Regions from separate parts of the Homo sapiens genome. Here region 1 is linked to region 2. Evidence: fine-mapped expression QTL. Tissue or cell type: lung. Region 2 holds a variant in brackets; the other region holds the start of a gene. All regions are shown on one strand. Distances are between the middles of the regions.

Region 1 (8,000 bases), 190 kb after region 2:
GAAGATTAGGAATACAGGTACAGGCTGAGTGTGGTGACACATGCCTCTAATCCCAGCACACTGGGAGGCAGAGGCAGGAGGATCGCTTGAGCCCAGGAGTTTGAGAGCAGCCTGAGCAGCATACTAAGACCCTCTTAAAAAAAAAAAAAAAAGACAGCTGCTAGACTAGTATGTAGCAAAAAGTACAAAATGAGCTGTTTTTATTAAATTGAGAACTACCGGATGAGATAGATGCAGCTATGAAGAGTTGAAGGAACATGTACTAGGTCGAGGTTAGAGCAGTGCCCAAGAAGCAGGAAAACTTTTGATTTGTTCAAGAGACAGTAATGAGGCCTGTATGGCTAAAAATTATTACCACTGAAGAAAGTAGTATGAGCTATCATTAGAGAGGTAAGCAGAGGGTCCAGACCCTGTGGGGCTTTGGAAGAGTTTGATCTTGAGTCAATGGTACTGGGAAGCCACTGCAGGTTTGTAAAAGCAAGGGGTGATGTGACCAGACTTATTTTTAAACATGTATGCTCTGTGAAAAACTGATGAAAACAGGTCAACAGTGGTGGCAGGAACACCAGTTGAGAGGTTGAGTAGTTCAGGAAAGAGATAATGCTGGCATGGACTAGGGTAAAAGAGTAGACGAGGGGAATGGAGTAGTCTGAGATTTACTTAGGAGGAAGTAGCAACAGGAGTGGATTGAGAGTGAGGAAGAGAGAAGTCAAGGTGACTCGTAGTTTCTGACTTAGTAATGGGAACCACTAACAGAAAGAAGACTGGAAGACAAAAGTCAAAAGTTTACTTTTAGGTACCAACATCCACAAGGATGATTAATTCATCTAATAATTTGGTGTTTCAGTTGACCTCTTCACCTCCAGTGATCATTTTTTCCCACCCTACATCAGCCTGTCATCCCCCTGCCTTGTTCACACTATCACCTCCAAAATCTGATCACCCCCTTACCCCTTCCAGCTCAGCTACTTTGATTTCAATGTACATTAACATCACCCCCTTATAAATATTTTTACCTCCTTTATCTCCTCCCATTGTCCCACTTTCCTGGTTAAACCCAACTTGCTTGCACTTGGGAGGGAAAACAGAGCCATGCTGATAGTTTAAATTCATGGCCACAGATTTTAAAAGGTACCAAATACTGCCTGGACATTTTGGCTCATTTTTTCCACTCTTCAGAACTTCTCTTCCTTTCCTTGCTATCTTCTTCTGACACTGCCTAATGTTTCATTGAAAAGTAGAGGTCATTAAACAGAACTCTCTCATCTTCCCACCACCATTCCTCCTAACCCACCTGCATCTGTGGCCACTTTTCTTCCTCTTGTAATAGATGAAAAGGTTCCTGCTCCTATCAAAAGCCATCTTACCAGCTGTACTCTGCATCCTAGCCTCTCTTGTCTTCTCTAGACTTCCCTACTGTAACTATCTTCTCTTGCATCATCAGCTCCCCCTCTCTACTGAATCATCCCGTTAGTGTACAAACATGCTCTAGTATATTACTATCAAAACACTCCCTTACTTCATGTTCCATTTTCAGATACTGTCCCATTTCTTATCTCTGCAGCAGCATTTGAGTGAGCTCTTTATAGTCACTCTCTCTACTTTTCACATTCTCTCCTCAGCCCATTCCAGCTGTTTCTGTTCTCACTACTGCAGAGACTTGCTCTTGTTATGATCACGAGTGACTGCTATGTTTGTCAAATCTACTGGTTCCTTGTCGCTCTTTTTTTTTTTATTGAGATGGAGTCCCAGGCTGGAGTGCAATGGTGCGATCTCGGCTCACTGCAGGCTCCACCTCCCAGGTTCAAATGATTCTCCTGCCTCAGCCTCCCGAGTAGCTGGGATTTCAGGTGCCCGCCACTACACCTGGCTATTTTTTGTATTTTTAGTAGAGACAGGGTTTTACCACGTTGGCCAGGCTGGTCTTGAACTCCTGACCTCGTGATCCACCCGCCTTGGCCTCCAAAGTGCTGGAATTACAGGCGTGAGCCACTGCGCCTGGCCCCTTGTCTCTATCTTGATGTCTCAGCAGCATTCATTACTATTGATTCATGTCTTTACGCTCTCCTATTTTCTTTTTTTATTTTGGTTTTGTCACAGAATATCACTCTGTCGCCCAGGCTGGAGTGCAGTGGTGCGATGTCGGCTCACTGCAACCTCCGCCTCCCAGGTTCAAGCGATTCTCCTGTCTCACCCTCCCAAGTAGCTGGTATTACAGGCCCAGCTAATTTTTGTATTTTTAGTAGAGACAGCGTTTCGCCATGTTGGCCAGGCTGGTCTTGAACTTCTGATCTCAGGTGATCTGCCCACCTTGGCCTCCCCATGTGCTGGGATTACAGCCGTGACTCACTGCGCCTGGCCTCTCCTTTTTTCTTCTTTGGCCATTTCCCAATCTCCTTTGCTGATTCCTTCTCAACCTTGAAATGCTAGAGTGCCCTACGGCTCTGTCCCTGGCCATATTCAAGCCCATGACATCAAATACCATCCTTGTAATGGTGACTTATTTCTCTAATTCTGGCCTAGAACATTCCCCAAAAGTAACAGCCTAAACTTCACATGGCCCCCCAAAAAAACTCCCCCTCCCCAAAACCACCATCCCCAGTCTTCCTATATCAAGCAAAAAAATTCAGTTATATGGATTCTTCCTAATCTACTCATTCCTACTGACCTTCTCCATCTCATATCCATCCAACTCCTACCACCCTGACTCCCACCCTTATGCAAATCATTAAATCTTGCCTATATTACCATAATAGCTGTAATTTGTCTTTCCACTTCCCTAAAATCTTGTTTTCACACAGCAGACACAGTGATCTTTCCAAAATGTAAATCAGTCCCTGGTTCTCAAGCTAGGAAGATAGTGCCCACAGGGCAAATGTCTGGAAACACTTTTGGCTATCACAACTGGGTGGATGCTACTGACATCTTTTGGGTAGAAGTCAGAGTTGCTGATTAACATAAGACACAGGAAAGTCCCTCACAAAGAATTATCTGGCCACAACCTATCAATACTGCTGAGTTTAAGAAACCAAGCCTTGTATCATTCTTCTACAGCAAAAAGGGTGTGGAGAATGGAGGGCCACTGAAAGAACCAAACCTGAGCCCCTTTATGGGGGCCACGGCACAGCCCATTTAATGGCTTGGAAAATTCTCGGGGGGAAAGGTGGCTCTCCTCTACTTTAAACTTTTCAATGGCTTCTAACTTTATGTAGATTAAAATACAAATTCCTCATCCTGCTTTACAAAGCCCACTATGCTGTAGCCAGCCACTCTGTATTTCATCAGTCTCTGAATTGGCCAAACTTATTCCTTTTGCAGCTGTTTCTTTTGCTTGGAATGCTTTTGTACATGATCTTTGTGTGGCTTAAATGTCAGCCCCTCAGACACCTCGTTACCCAGTCATATTACATCACCGCTTATTTTCTGTAGCACCCTCACCACTATTTCATCTTTCAGCCCATCTCCAGTGCTGCAACGTGGACTTCCTGAAAGCAGAGATCTTTTTTTTTTTTTTCTCACTGCTGTCTAGTTCGCCCTCAAACAGTGCCTGACTTATAGAAGTGCTCAGTAAATAACAGTGATTAAATGAATGAAAAACTGTGAAGTCTGACGATTATCATATACCTAAGTGAAGACAGAATGGACAAATGAATATGCCACTATACGGTTCTGGCAAGAGGTATAGGTTAACAAAGAAAAATAACTTCAGGATTAAAACTATATTAAAAGCCACAGGTCTGGATAAGATCATCTAGGATGAAAAAATAGTCTTTTTAAATCAATACACCATTTATTAACCTGAGCAGCAGAGAAGGGGCTCGGAAAAGCACCTGCTCTGAGACCCTTACTGGAGCCCCAAAACTTCTCTCCTTAAGGAGCCCTCGGGGAGAGAAAAAAGCCTTCCAAACAGGCTTATGCCTTACACCCCCCCCCCCCCATTCTCCGTCTGTCTCCGAGCACAGGGGCCCCACGCACCTCTGGGGGATCCATCCTGGGGTGCGGCGACCCTCTTGGTAAGCAGCGAGCGCCTGGGTCCGCCGGCCTGGGTCTGCAGCCCGTATGAGAACTGCGGCGGGTCGTTCCAGCCGCGTTCCTTGTTGCCTGCGGAGGCGAGGGATGTGTGAAGCGAGCCCGGAACTCCACTGTTAGCTTATACTGGGGCTGGGGGAGACAGAGGGTCCATACTAAGCGCCGCAACCGCCCCCAGCCTAGGCCGGGGCGACAACCTAGTGCCCTAGCCCGCCGGCTGCGCTCACCCGGCTTCACGTACAGCTCCGCCATCTCCACTTCCGCTTGGCCAGCGGGGCAGCGCGTCATTTCCGGGGCGGCCCCTCACGCGGGCCAGTTGAGACACGTCCAGGGCCAGGCGGGTTGCCGGAATCCGTGGAGGATGGATGCTGGTTCACAACCGTCGGGAGCCGCTGTGGGGACCCTGCGGCAACTCCCTAAGACTCGAAGGCTCCATCTAATGAACCATCAGGGCCCTGGTCACAAGGCACCAAAGGAGGTTGCTGTCCAGGAGCCAGTGCTCTAGGAGGCCTCATCCTCTCAGGAGCAAATTCAAACAAAGAAGCTCCTGCCCCACATACACCCCGCTGTGATCTAGCCAGGTTGACTTCTACAGCCTCCTCTTGCATTGCCCTGCACAATCTCCACATTCACGTCCGGTAGCCTCACTAGTACTCATCTTCCTTCAGTTCTCAGTTCAGATGTCAGTTCTTCAGGAGGCCTTCTGGAATGTCTCAGGCCAGGTTAAGTGTCTCACTTGAGCTCCCACGACCCTACAACCCTCTGAGATTTCGTAGGTGTATTACATCACATCTTCTGCCTTATTTGACTCTTGTTCGTTTCCCTGTCGGACAGTCTTAGAAGGTGGGACCTTGACTATTTTATTACATTCCCAGTGCCCAGCTTAGTGCCTGGCACAGGGAACTCCTTAGAAAATATGTTTGTTGAATGAAGTCAGATCTCCATCACACCCATGCTGTCATGTGACTACAGAGAGCCACCAACATCAAGCACAGACACAAAGACACTCATCTCACACAGGGTGTTAGCCCCCAGCCCTGTCCCAGGCCCAATATACTCACATCCAGTGAGGTCACTGAGGGATTTTTATTTGCACTGATTTTGCTATAAAGTGTTACTGAGGTAGAGCCAACTGTCCAGGGTTGGACAGGGGCAAGGAACACAAGGACCCAAGGAAAGGGGAGCCAGGGTCCTACGTTGTGGTGCAGTGCCTCCCAGTCATCCGTATAAACAATAAATTGGGCAATAAATAGACGGTGGACAAGGATCGGAGGGACAGGCAGAGAAGGCTTCAAGGAGTGACAGGCTATAGGCCTTGAGGAATAAAACGGTACAGAGTTAGGCATGGACCCAGAGCCTACTTCCCCAGCCTTCCCAGATAAGTTTAGGGCATATGGAGCAGAGAGGGTTTCAGCCGGAAGGCATCAAGAAAAGAGAAGACACCCCGCTTTCGAGGGGTTGCCCCTGCACCGCCAACCCCTCCTTTGAGCAGGGGGAGGGGCAGGGGACCTCCTGGGGAATCCATGGAGCTGGTCCGCTTGAGCCGCAGGCGGGCACGGGCCTGGGCACCCCAGGCCTTGCCTCGAGCTGCAGAGGCCACAAGACACTTCTGGTACTGAACCTAGGGAGAAGGGGAATGTGAGGATCCAGCTACTTTCTGCCTCTAGACTCCCTGAAAGCTTCTGCAGGACAGGGAACTGGCCAAAGCTTCTGTCTGATAACAAGGTTGGTAGTCAGCCACATGTGGAGTTTCTAGAGCATTCCCAGGTAGCTCAATAACAAAATCATAAAACATGTATCAGACACTTAAGGAGGGCAGGCTGGACACTGCTAAGTGCTTTGTATAATTCAGTTATTTATGAGGGGTTATTATCCCTGTTTTGCAAAAGAGGAAATTGAGATTCAGAGAGTATATGACTTGCCCAAGGTCACACAGCCAGAGAAAGGCAGAAATGGCATTCAAACCTAGTTCTCTCTGATTGCAGAGCCTAAACTCTTAATTACATGTACCACTATGTTGCCTCTTTTCCATCTCTCACTGGTGGGGACTAGTCCCTGGCAAAGCAGATTCCCTAGTCAAGGGTAAAGGTGTACAACTCAAACTCCAGCCCCAATGCAACTGCTCCCAGTCATCTCATCTGAACAGCTCAAAGGTGTCCTAATTGGCCTTCCTACCTCCTATTACGTCCTCCAAATCTTTTACCCATACTATAGCTTAAGTGGTCATCCTAATCCATAACCCTGACTTCACTCTCGGGCTCCAGTGCTTCCTAGTGCCTCCAGATAAACTCATCACCCTGACCTATGAGGTCCCCCAAACCTGGCTTCTGTCATTCTCTCTGATCTCACCTCTCACTACGTCCCCCTTGCATGCCAGATACACTAGATTCTTTCAGATACTCTCATCCACTAATATCTCTCACCTTCACAGCTAAGGTTCCCTGTGCTTGGTACACCTGCCCCACTCCCCTTCACCTGGCTAACTTCCCTCTTGGACTGTCGGATTTCTATCACCTCTTACAGGTAGCCTTCCTGACCCCTAAAGGGGCCACCTCTTCCATCAACCAGTGGTGTACAACTTATTTCTGGTCTATCTTGGCTCTATCCTAAGTGTTTTGTGAAGGCAAGGGCTGTGCCCTCTACAGCACTAAATTCTCAGGGTCAGCTATGGTGTCTGGGACCCTGTAGGCACCCATATTTGTTGAATGAATGGGCAAACTGAACTAACGAAGTATAAGCAACCCACACTCAAATGCCCACAGATGCCAGGAAATAAACCTAAATGAGACAAACAGGAACAATGCCAACTCTTTAGGGCACAGCTTCTGCACAACTCTGGCTGCATGCTGACACTTACACGTGTGAACTGAGTGCCAGAGCTCTTGATATTTTAAGAAAAACAAGAATAGCGATTATTATGTGAAATGTCCTGGCCTTTAAATATTGGCAACTAATTAAAACTTACTAAAAACAACATGAGGGCCAAAACATTAATGAACCAGAATCAGCCCAGGTTTGTGATCTCTGAAGAGGCTGCCGACCCGGAGCCCAAGTAAACAGTGGAGAGCAGCTGCAGGGCAATCCCACCAACCCATTCCCACCCATGACTCACCATACAGGCAGCCTGCACAGCTTCAGAGAGTCCCCCTGCATGGGGCTGGCACCAGAAGGCTGCGCACTGGAAGCTCTGACGGCCCAGGTCAGCGATGAGGCCAAAGGTGTGTGGGTCGCGGCCAACACCAATAAATGTCACAAGGCGCACAGGGCACTGCCACAATGGCTCCTCCTCTGTACTGGCCTCTGCCTGCCCACACCAGGCCTAGTCACTAGAGGGCCAAGCACGGGCCAGACCCACTTAACTTTTCCGACAGCAAGCAGTGACCCCTCAGCATCCCTGCTCACCCCTCCAAAGCCCCCAACTTCACCCTCTTCTGGTACCTGAATGGGGTGTGCAGTCATGAGAGAGTCAGACACACTGAGCATGGTGGGGACCCAGGCATTCCGGTCCCCCCTGGCGGTGAGGGTACCAATGGCCTCGTTCAGCACATCCATGCCTGGGGGAACATACCCAGCGTGTCTCCCAGTGTAAAAGAAAGAGTCTGCAGGGAGTGTCTAGCCCCCTCTCACTGATTTGGGATTCAGAGATAGGGAATAGGATAGCTGGGGCAAGCCTTAGAATTCTGATTTGGGAAGGCTGGTAGACCCCAGGCCATAACAAGGCCACGGGAGGACTCTTGAGAAATGATAACAGGCCTCACCTCACTCACCTTCCCCTTGCCTCACACAGCCCACCACATGCAGCCCCCTCAGTCCTCACCCATGGCCTTGGTGACTGGCAGTGTCCCCATATACAGTGCCTCGTACTTCTGAGCAGCTTGGCTTACCGCATCCAGCAGCTCCACTGAAATATACACACCAAGTTGGCCTGGAAGCTCTTTCAATTACCCTTTTCCCCACCCTTCTCAATGGGC
Region 2 (8,000 bases):
ACACTCTGGTTCTGAATCAATTGAGAAATAAGACAACAGAAGGCCTGATATCATCTTCCTTTCTGACAACACTGATAAAGGAACATGGGTTATATCTGTGGGTGAATGGGCTTCCTAATGATGAAGCCAAAATTGAATAGACTTACCCACCAGTCGTGGAAGCACTGGTTTGAGACTATCTTACCCCAGGGGAGTAGAGCTAAATACATACATCAAACAGGCAGCTTATACTCGAGAGAGGGGAGAGAAAGGGGCAGGGCCAGGTATGCCCAGCTTCATTTCCTGAAATCACCAATCAAATATATCACTGCTCTTCTGGGTGAGAGTGGCCGGCCAGGTGGAGAGAGGCTTGGAGTATTACACTTGCATATATCCCTCCACATGGAAGGCAACCCCAGGACTGGGAAGAAGTGGCCTCTCTATATGTTCTCCTATCAGTGCTAGGCATGAACAAGACCAGTTCTAGCCCTGGTGGAAACACACAGATTTGTATACTCCTCTATTCAGCCAACATTTGCTGAGCATCTACTGTGGCCAGGTCCAGTGCTTGGTACCAGGGATGCAGATGGGTAGAGAATTTGAGAGGATGGGGGCATGAGACAATGTCCTTCTCGCACACTTGGTAGTGATAGAGTCAGCAGACAGATGAGTCACAATTAAGAACTCTGGTTCACCTGGACCCATCAGATAAGAATTTTATGGGGCTGGAGGAGGTTCCCAGGGGAGGGAACATACATCTGAATTCTTCTCTGCTTCCCAGGAAATGAGTCTCAATGGATAAGGACAAGGCCAAAAGACAGAGACGACATTGTAAGCATGGTGAGGGACTGCTCCTGGGAGGTTCTAGGAAGGAAAGGGTGGAGACCAAGGCAGTCGGTGGTTTCTAGCTCTTCCTACCCATAGGTTAAGGAAACCTTCATAGGTGAGTAAAGCTTAGCCATTTCCTACAGCTGGGAACTTCCCATCCTGGGCCCCTGGTGTCTCTGTGGGTCCCTCCTCCCTTGAAGTTGGTCCAGGAGAGCAGGACATTTACTCCATTGCCTATAACTCCACTCCTGACCCTCCTGTGTACAGGACTTAGGCCTGATCAATGCATCCTTGCTGCCGCCACCTGAGTGCACCCGGCAGGGAGGCCACCCTCGTGGCCCTGGCTGTCATACAGTCCCAGACATTGCCTTCTTCTCCCTTCTCCTCTTCCTTACTTCTTTCTTCTTTGCTATGGCCCTCAAGTGTGTAAAGACCAGCCGCTTCTTCCCCTCTGTGGTGAGTTTCACCTTTCTTTCTGTGGGAGAGGCCTGACTCTAAGCTTTGGGTCCTATCTGTGATGGGAAGTGGTGTGGAAAAAGAGAGATGGCAGGCCTGGACCTGACTGAGTGTCCACTGTGTGCCAGGTGCGCAAAGGGCTCAGCGACTTCTCCTCAGTCCTGGCCATCCTGCTCGGCTGTGGCCTTGATGCTTTCCTGGGCCTAGCCACACCAAAGCTCATGGTACCCAGAGAGTTCAAGGTGAGAGCCAGGGAAGAGGGTTGGGGGACCAGAGGGGAAAGCAGGGCCAGCAGACCATGGGGAAGGAAAATGAATAAATCCCACACTTCTCTAAGCTTCTTTCTTCACTAATAAGCTAGAGATAGTAATAATAATGGCCTCACAGGGTTGTCATGAGGATTAAATGAAGTACTGCAGCAGACACGTGAGTACAGAGAATACACGGTAGCTATTATTACAGGGTATGGGTTAAGAGAATGGGTTCTGATCAGCCAGCCCTGGGTTTGAGTTCCAGTTCTTCCACTTCCCAGCTATGCATTAGGCAAGTTAATGCACATTTCTAAGCCTCAATTTCTTCGTCTATAAAATGGAAATAATAAAATGACAATAGTTCCTACCCCGTAGATTGTTTTGAGGTTTACAGAAGATCACAGTGGAAAGCACTTACCACATGCCTGGCACATACCAAGTCCTCAATAAATGTTAGCTATTATTGTTACGGGATTGCCCCACCCTTGGCGTGGCCCTGCCCACTCCACTACTCCTCACTCTCTTCTTCCCACCCCACGTTGCCTACCCTGATCCAGGAAAGCTGGAACTCCCTTTCCAGGGCATGACAGTGTGCAGGACAAGGCTTAGCACTGATTTCTAGACTTTGCCTTTGCATTTGGAGACCTCCTCTCCAAATTCCCCCAAGACAGGAGAGCAGGGAGGAATCCAGCTGGGGCAGCAACTGGGGCCCCCTCCCCAACACATATGCTTGTAATCAGCGTGGACACAGACACACCCAGCCCTGTCCCTGCCTCAGATCAAGGCAGGTCTGAGCCTGAGTTGCCCCACCCGGGATAGGGGGAGAGGGATCTCTAGGGAGCAGGGCTCTGTACATCAAGAAGTGTGTGTAGGCCACATGTGCCACCTCCTTCTGTTCCAGGGAGGGAGGGACCCTGAACCAAAGTCCAGAGCCCCTGGTTCCAGCCTGACCTCAGGGCTGGTCTCCTTCCATCTGCTGTCTTTTAAGGCACTGGGATGCTTTGAACCAGCTATGCACACACAGCCCACTAGCATCTAGTGACTTGGGGTGGGGGCAGGTTGTGGAAGAATGCCAAGGTTGAGATGTGCAGGTGAGATGCTCTTGGGAGACCCACTCCAACCTGTCCATGAAATGCCCTCCTCCAGCCCACACTCCCTGGGCGTGGCTGGCTGGTGTCACCTTTTGGAGCCAACCCCTGGTGGTGGAGTGTGGCAGCTGCCCTGCCTGCCCTGCTGCTGTCTATCCTCATCTTCATGGACCAACAGATCACAGCAGTCATCCTCAACCGCATGGAATACAGACTGCAGGTAAGGCCTGCTGGGTAAGGCCCAAGACCAAGGGACAGAAGCTCCAGGGGAGTCTACGCTCCTCCTCTCCTACCTCAGAGGACAGAGGGCTGGGGCCTGGGCTAGCTTCATCCTCATTGCCCCCACCACTACCTGCAGAAGGGAGCTGGCTTCCACCTGGACCTCTTCTGTGTGGCTGTGCTGATGCTACTCACATCAGCGCTTGGACTGCCTTGGTATGTCTCAGCCACTGTCATCTCCCTGGCTCACATGGACAGTCTTCGGAGAGAGAGCAGAGCCTGTGCCCCCGGGGAGCGCCCCAACTTCCTGGGTATCAGGTGAGGGCGGTATTTAGGAAGTGGAGTAAGAGGTGGGCAGCAAGGTAAGGCAAAGGGGAACATGGCAGAGTTACTTGGGCAGCTTAAATTCTAAGCTGGTGTCCCACAAGCATTGCAGTGGCAGAATGAGTGAGTTCTGGGCTCTGAGATGGGTGAGTCAGATCTTCCCCTCTCTCCCCTCAGCCATGGGGACTGGGAGGGGCCTCAAGAGGATTATCATCCATGCAAAGGTAGAGGCAGCCAGGGCTGAAGTGGAGGGTCAGGTGCCACCTAATAATCCTCACTCAATGTAGAAGTTACAAAGGAATCCATCATAAAAGCAATTTTGGAACTGTTGGAAGCACAGTCTAAGTATCTAAAGTATATGAAATCAACTTGATAAATTGTGAAATGTAAGTCTTTATGGCAGTGTAAACATTGCTAATTTTCCATCAAAATAAAAATAAGGAGCAACTATGAACTTGAATTGATGGAGAGGTCTGGGACTCTCACCTTGAAGTGCTCTGCCCCTTCCTCTCCACCAATTTTTCACATCAAGCTAAGGGCTCATCCCTCTGGGTGACCTACTGGGGTATTCCTCTAGTTTTCTCTTGCTGCCGGGGTCTGTACTGGTATTCAGCCAGGATCTCCAGTCTGGATACCCCAGGGACTCTCCCAGACCTCAGCTAACTCCTCCCTCTCCCCACAGGGAACAGAGGCTGACAGGCCTGGTGGTGTTCATCCTTACAGGAGCCTCCATCTTCCTGGCACCTGTGCTCAAGGTACCTTTGTTATACAAGCCAGGATCAGGGTCAGTGTAGTAATAATAGGAGCACAGCAAGAACTGACAGTAGTTGAATACTTACAGTGTGCCAGGTGCTCTGTTAAGTTTTCTCCATACATGGTCTCATTTAATCCTCACATTAACCCTGAAAGGAGTATGTACCTTACAAATGAGGCAGATGAAGTTTAAAGAGGCAAAGAAACTTGCAAGAGCCCATCAAAAGAGCCAGTTTTTCAGATCTGTCTGAGAACTCAAACGCTTATCCAATGGGCTTTTTACCCAGTGGAGCAAGGTGTGGGTGTGCCACCACCATCCCCTAGGGTCTAAGTGCTACCCTTGCTCTAGCCTCCCAACAAACCTGAGACTAAGAGTATGATCAGCCCAGGTGCGGTGGCTCATGCCTGTAATCCCAGCACTTTGGGAGGCTGAGGTGGGAGGATCACTTGAGCGCAGAAGTTTGAGACCTACCTGGGCAACATAAGGAGACTCTGTCTCTGCAAAAAATAAAAAAGGTAGCTGGGCATGGTGGTGTGTGCCTAAGGTGGAAGGATCGCTTGAGCCCAGGAGTTTGAGAGTGCAGTAGGTGGTGATCACTGGATGACAAGAGCAAGAATGTCTCAAAAAAAAAAAACAAAAAAAAACCAAAAAACAACAACAGAAAAACTTTGAGGCAAAAAGCCTTCACTTCTCCTTCACCAGAGGTATATGGAATATTTGCTATATGCAAGACTGCTAGGCACTTGGGAGAAGTACGGGTCAGTGGAATATTGAAAAGAAATATGGAACTAAGCCCCTACCAGCAACACACACAAATGAGCAAAAATTAAGTAACAAGTAATAGCAAAAAGGTTGAACAAGCCAAGACAG[C/CA]AAGCAGTCAAGGAGGGTGTGGAGAATGTCAGACAAGGGTCACTGGCAGGACGACAAGAGGTTAGGGAAGGGAAAGGTCATGGAAGCTGGGTGAAAGTGGAGTAGGGAAAGAGCCAGATGGACCGGATCAGCCACTTACTAACTGGGTGACTCTCATTTACAGACATTTACAGAGCATAAACCATATGCTAGGCCGGGTGTGGTGGCTCACACCTGTAATCCCAGCACTTTGGGAGGCCGAGGTGGGCGGATTGCTTGAGCTCAGGAGTTTGAGACCAGCCTGTGCAACATGGCGAAACCCCGTCTCTACAAAAAATACAAAAGTTAGCTGGGCATGGTTGTGTGCACCTGTAGTCTCAGCTACTTGGGAGGCTAAGGTGGGAGCATCACTTGAGCCCAGGAGGTCTAGGCTGCAATGAGCCAGGTTTGTGACACTGGACTCCAGCCTGGGCAACAGAGTGAGATCTTGTCTCAAAAAACAAAACAAAACAAAAAATCCCAAAAAACAGAAAACCCTAAACAAAAAAACAAACAAAAACCCACATGCCACGCACTGTTCTAGGTACTGGGGATATAATGGTGCTCAAAAGAAATCATTTTTCTAACCTTACAACCTGGTGAGAGGAGAAAGATTTTTAAAAATTAAAACAAGAAGCCAGGCACGGTGGCTCACGCCTGTAATCCCAGCACTTTGGGAGGCTGAGGCGGGTGGATCATCTGAGGTCAGGAGTTCGAGTCTAGCCTGGCCAACATGGCGAAACCCCATCTCTACTAAAAATATAAAAGTTAGCTGGGCGTGGTGGGGGGTGCCTATAATCCCAGCTACTTGGGAGGCTGAGGTATGAGAATCGCTTGAGCCTGGGGGGATGGAGGTTGCAGTGAGCCGAGATCAAGCCACATCACTCCAGTCTGGGTGGAAGAACGAAACTCCACCTCAAAAAAAAAAAAACAAAAACAAAAAAACAAATTAAAACAAGAGAATAGGATAACTTTAGATAGTGATAACTTCTGTGAAAAATAAAAGAAGATAAGATGATTAAGAGTGCCAGGGGCTACTTTAGATGGGGCCTGAAGTTAAAAAGTCAATGAAGACCTTTCAGGGTGTCATGAGAGGAGGCATGAGTAATAAGAATAAACTGGTCATGAGAAAGTCTGGGGGAAGAGCATTTTAGGTGGAGGGAATAGCAAAGCAAAAGGCTTTGCAAGGGGTAGGAACAAACTTGGGCATGTTGAGGGAAGGAAAGGCGGTTAGTATAGTGGGAGCATAAAGAACAGAAGGAAATGTGATAGATAAGATTGGAATGGTAGGCCAGGTAATGGACAAAGTTACTTAGTCCCTCTGAAATTCAATTTCCCAATCTGTAAAATGAAGGCAATAATAACATTTACTTCATCTAATTGATTTGAGGATTCAATAAGATCGGCATGAAACATGTGAAAGGAAAGGCAAGGCCTGGGCAGACCTGGATGCTAGATGCTAGAGGGATCTAGGGCATCTGGGCATCCTGGGGCATCTGGGAGGTTGGCAGAGGTAAACTTTGATAACTCTCTGCTTCTTTCTACCAGTTCATTCCAATGCCTGTGCTCTATGGCATCTTCCTGTATATGGGGGTGGCAGCGCTCAGCAGCATTCAGGTGAGCCCATTAAAATCACCTAACAAAAGAAAAAAGAAGAATAAAAAGACAAACAAAAAAGAACAAAATTACCTAGCAACCCTACTCCTTTTTTCTTTTCTGCTGGCATCTCCTGCTTACACTTGCCAATTTCCCTCTTACTCTCTTTTTCCTGTCTCTCCTGGACTCAGGGACTCGGCTGCCATGCTCTCTGCCTGCTCCCAGTGCTGGGCTATGATAGCTATCAGTGACACCCTCCTATCAGGCTACCTGAGTGCCCTGCTTTCCTCTTCCTCTTGTTCCCCTAGTTCACTAATAGGGTGAAGCTGTTGTTGATGCCAGCAAAACACCAGCCAGACCTGCTACTCTTGCGGCATGTGCCTCTGACCAGGGTCCACCTCTTCACAGCCATCCAGCTTGCCTGTCTGGGGCTGCTTTGGATAATCAAGTCTACCCCTGCAGCCATCATCTTCCCCCTCATGGTAAGCTGAGGCAGGGTTGGGCTGTGTCCTGGAGGGTCTTGGGAGACTCTGAGCCTGGAAGGGTGGCCAAGGCCTCCACGAGAGGAAGAATCTCCCCTCTCACTCGCTGTGGCTCTCCCTGGTTGGGAATCCTAAGACAAAGAAAAAGATGGCAGGATGATACCTATGTATGGGCTAGTCCTGGGATACCTGATTCACCTCTTTTCCCAACCTCTTTGGAGTGATCAGCCACAGGTAAGAATATAAAACCCAGAAGAAATCTGAGGTCTTGGTAGAGGAAATGGTGACACTTTTATTACTCAGTGAGGTGATAACATAGGTGGCTTCTGGCCTTGTTCTTATTGAGGAAGTTAAGAGTCACAGGCTTTGCAGTAGAATCAATCTGCTTATATATCCCAGATGTGTGACCTCTGGGAAGTAACTAATCACTTGGGGTCTCAGTTTCCTTCCCTGTACAATGGGAATAATTTATTCTATCTACCTCATAGGAATGTGCTAGCATTCAGTGAAACTGATATACAATGCCTAGCACATAGGAAGTGCTCAATAAGTGTTACTATTGTTAATGTTCCTACTACTGTTGCTGACAGGCCTGGGCCATGTTTCTATTCCTGCAGTTGCTGGGCCTTGTGGGGGTCCGAAAGGCCCTGGAGAGGGTCTTCTCACCACAGGAACTCCTCTGGCTGGATGAGCTGATGCCAGAGGAGGAGAGAAGCATCCCTGAGAAGGGGCTGGAGCCAGAACACTCATTCAGTGGAAGTGACAGTGAAGATGTGAGCTCCAGGCTGGGTCCTCTCAGGAGAATGTGTCAGGGTTTGGGAGAGCGTTCTTGTCCAGGAGCTGTCCCTAAATAATATCTCCAGTAAGCCCGCAGATCTGATCAACAGTCACTTCCCTTATCTGTGTATGGACATAGGCAGACTGAAGGGGTGAAGGAAATCTTTCTTCATAGGACAGGGGCCCTCGATGTGGGTGGAAAGGGCTGAGGCTTCAGCTCAAGTGGGCTGTCTTTCTCAACTCTGATCTTTGTTTTGTCTCACTGTGGGTTTACCTCTATGTTGTCTTTCACTATCTGTCTTTCTATCTATTCTCAATCCATCTTGGGATCTGTCTTCCACAGTCAGAGCTGATGTAT

The links. PIP is the estimated chance that this variant, and not a neighbour inherited with it, causes the effect.
Region 1: it holds the start of SRA1, and the variant in region 2 is fine-mapped to the expression of SRA1 in lung (TOPMed, PIP 0.93).

The regions. Positions count from the first base shown.
Region 1 is chr5:140,553,172-140,561,171 of GRCh38, forward strand. It overlaps SRA1 (steroid receptor RNA activator 1), which reads right to left and starts at 4,302. Exons shown (of 5, transcript NM_001035235.4): 1 at 4,257-4,302; 2 at 3,976-4,101. The coding sequence starts at 4,281. It overlaps APBB3 (amyloid beta precursor protein binding family B member 3), which reads right to left. Exons shown (of 13, transcript NM_133173.3): 10 at 7,847-7,930; 11 at 7,468-7,583; 12 at 7,142-7,333; 13 at 5,097-5,650. The coding sequence ends at 5,414. RefSeq lists a silencer at 2,862-3,011 and enhancers at 3,535-4,356, 4,222-4,581, 4,672-4,731.
Region 2 is chr5:140,364,760-140,372,759 of GRCh38, forward strand. It overlaps SLC4A9 (solute carrier family 4 member 9), which reads left to right. Exons shown (of 22, transcript NM_031467.3): 12 at 761-819; 13 at 1,075-1,263; 14 at 1,392-1,505; 15 at 2,661-2,822; 16 at 2,961-3,139; 17 at 3,828-3,900; 18 at 6,336-6,404; 19 at 6,692-6,865; 20 at 7,483-7,638; 21 at 7,986-8,000. It overlaps ANKHD1-DT (ANKHD1 divergent transcript), which reads right to left. Exons shown (of 2, transcript NR_186045.1): 2 at 6,137-6,423. Among named protein-coding and RNA genes, the nearest start is that of SLC4A9, 8.6 kb to the left of the region's middle. The variant C/CA (reference allele first, on the strand shown) is at 4,770.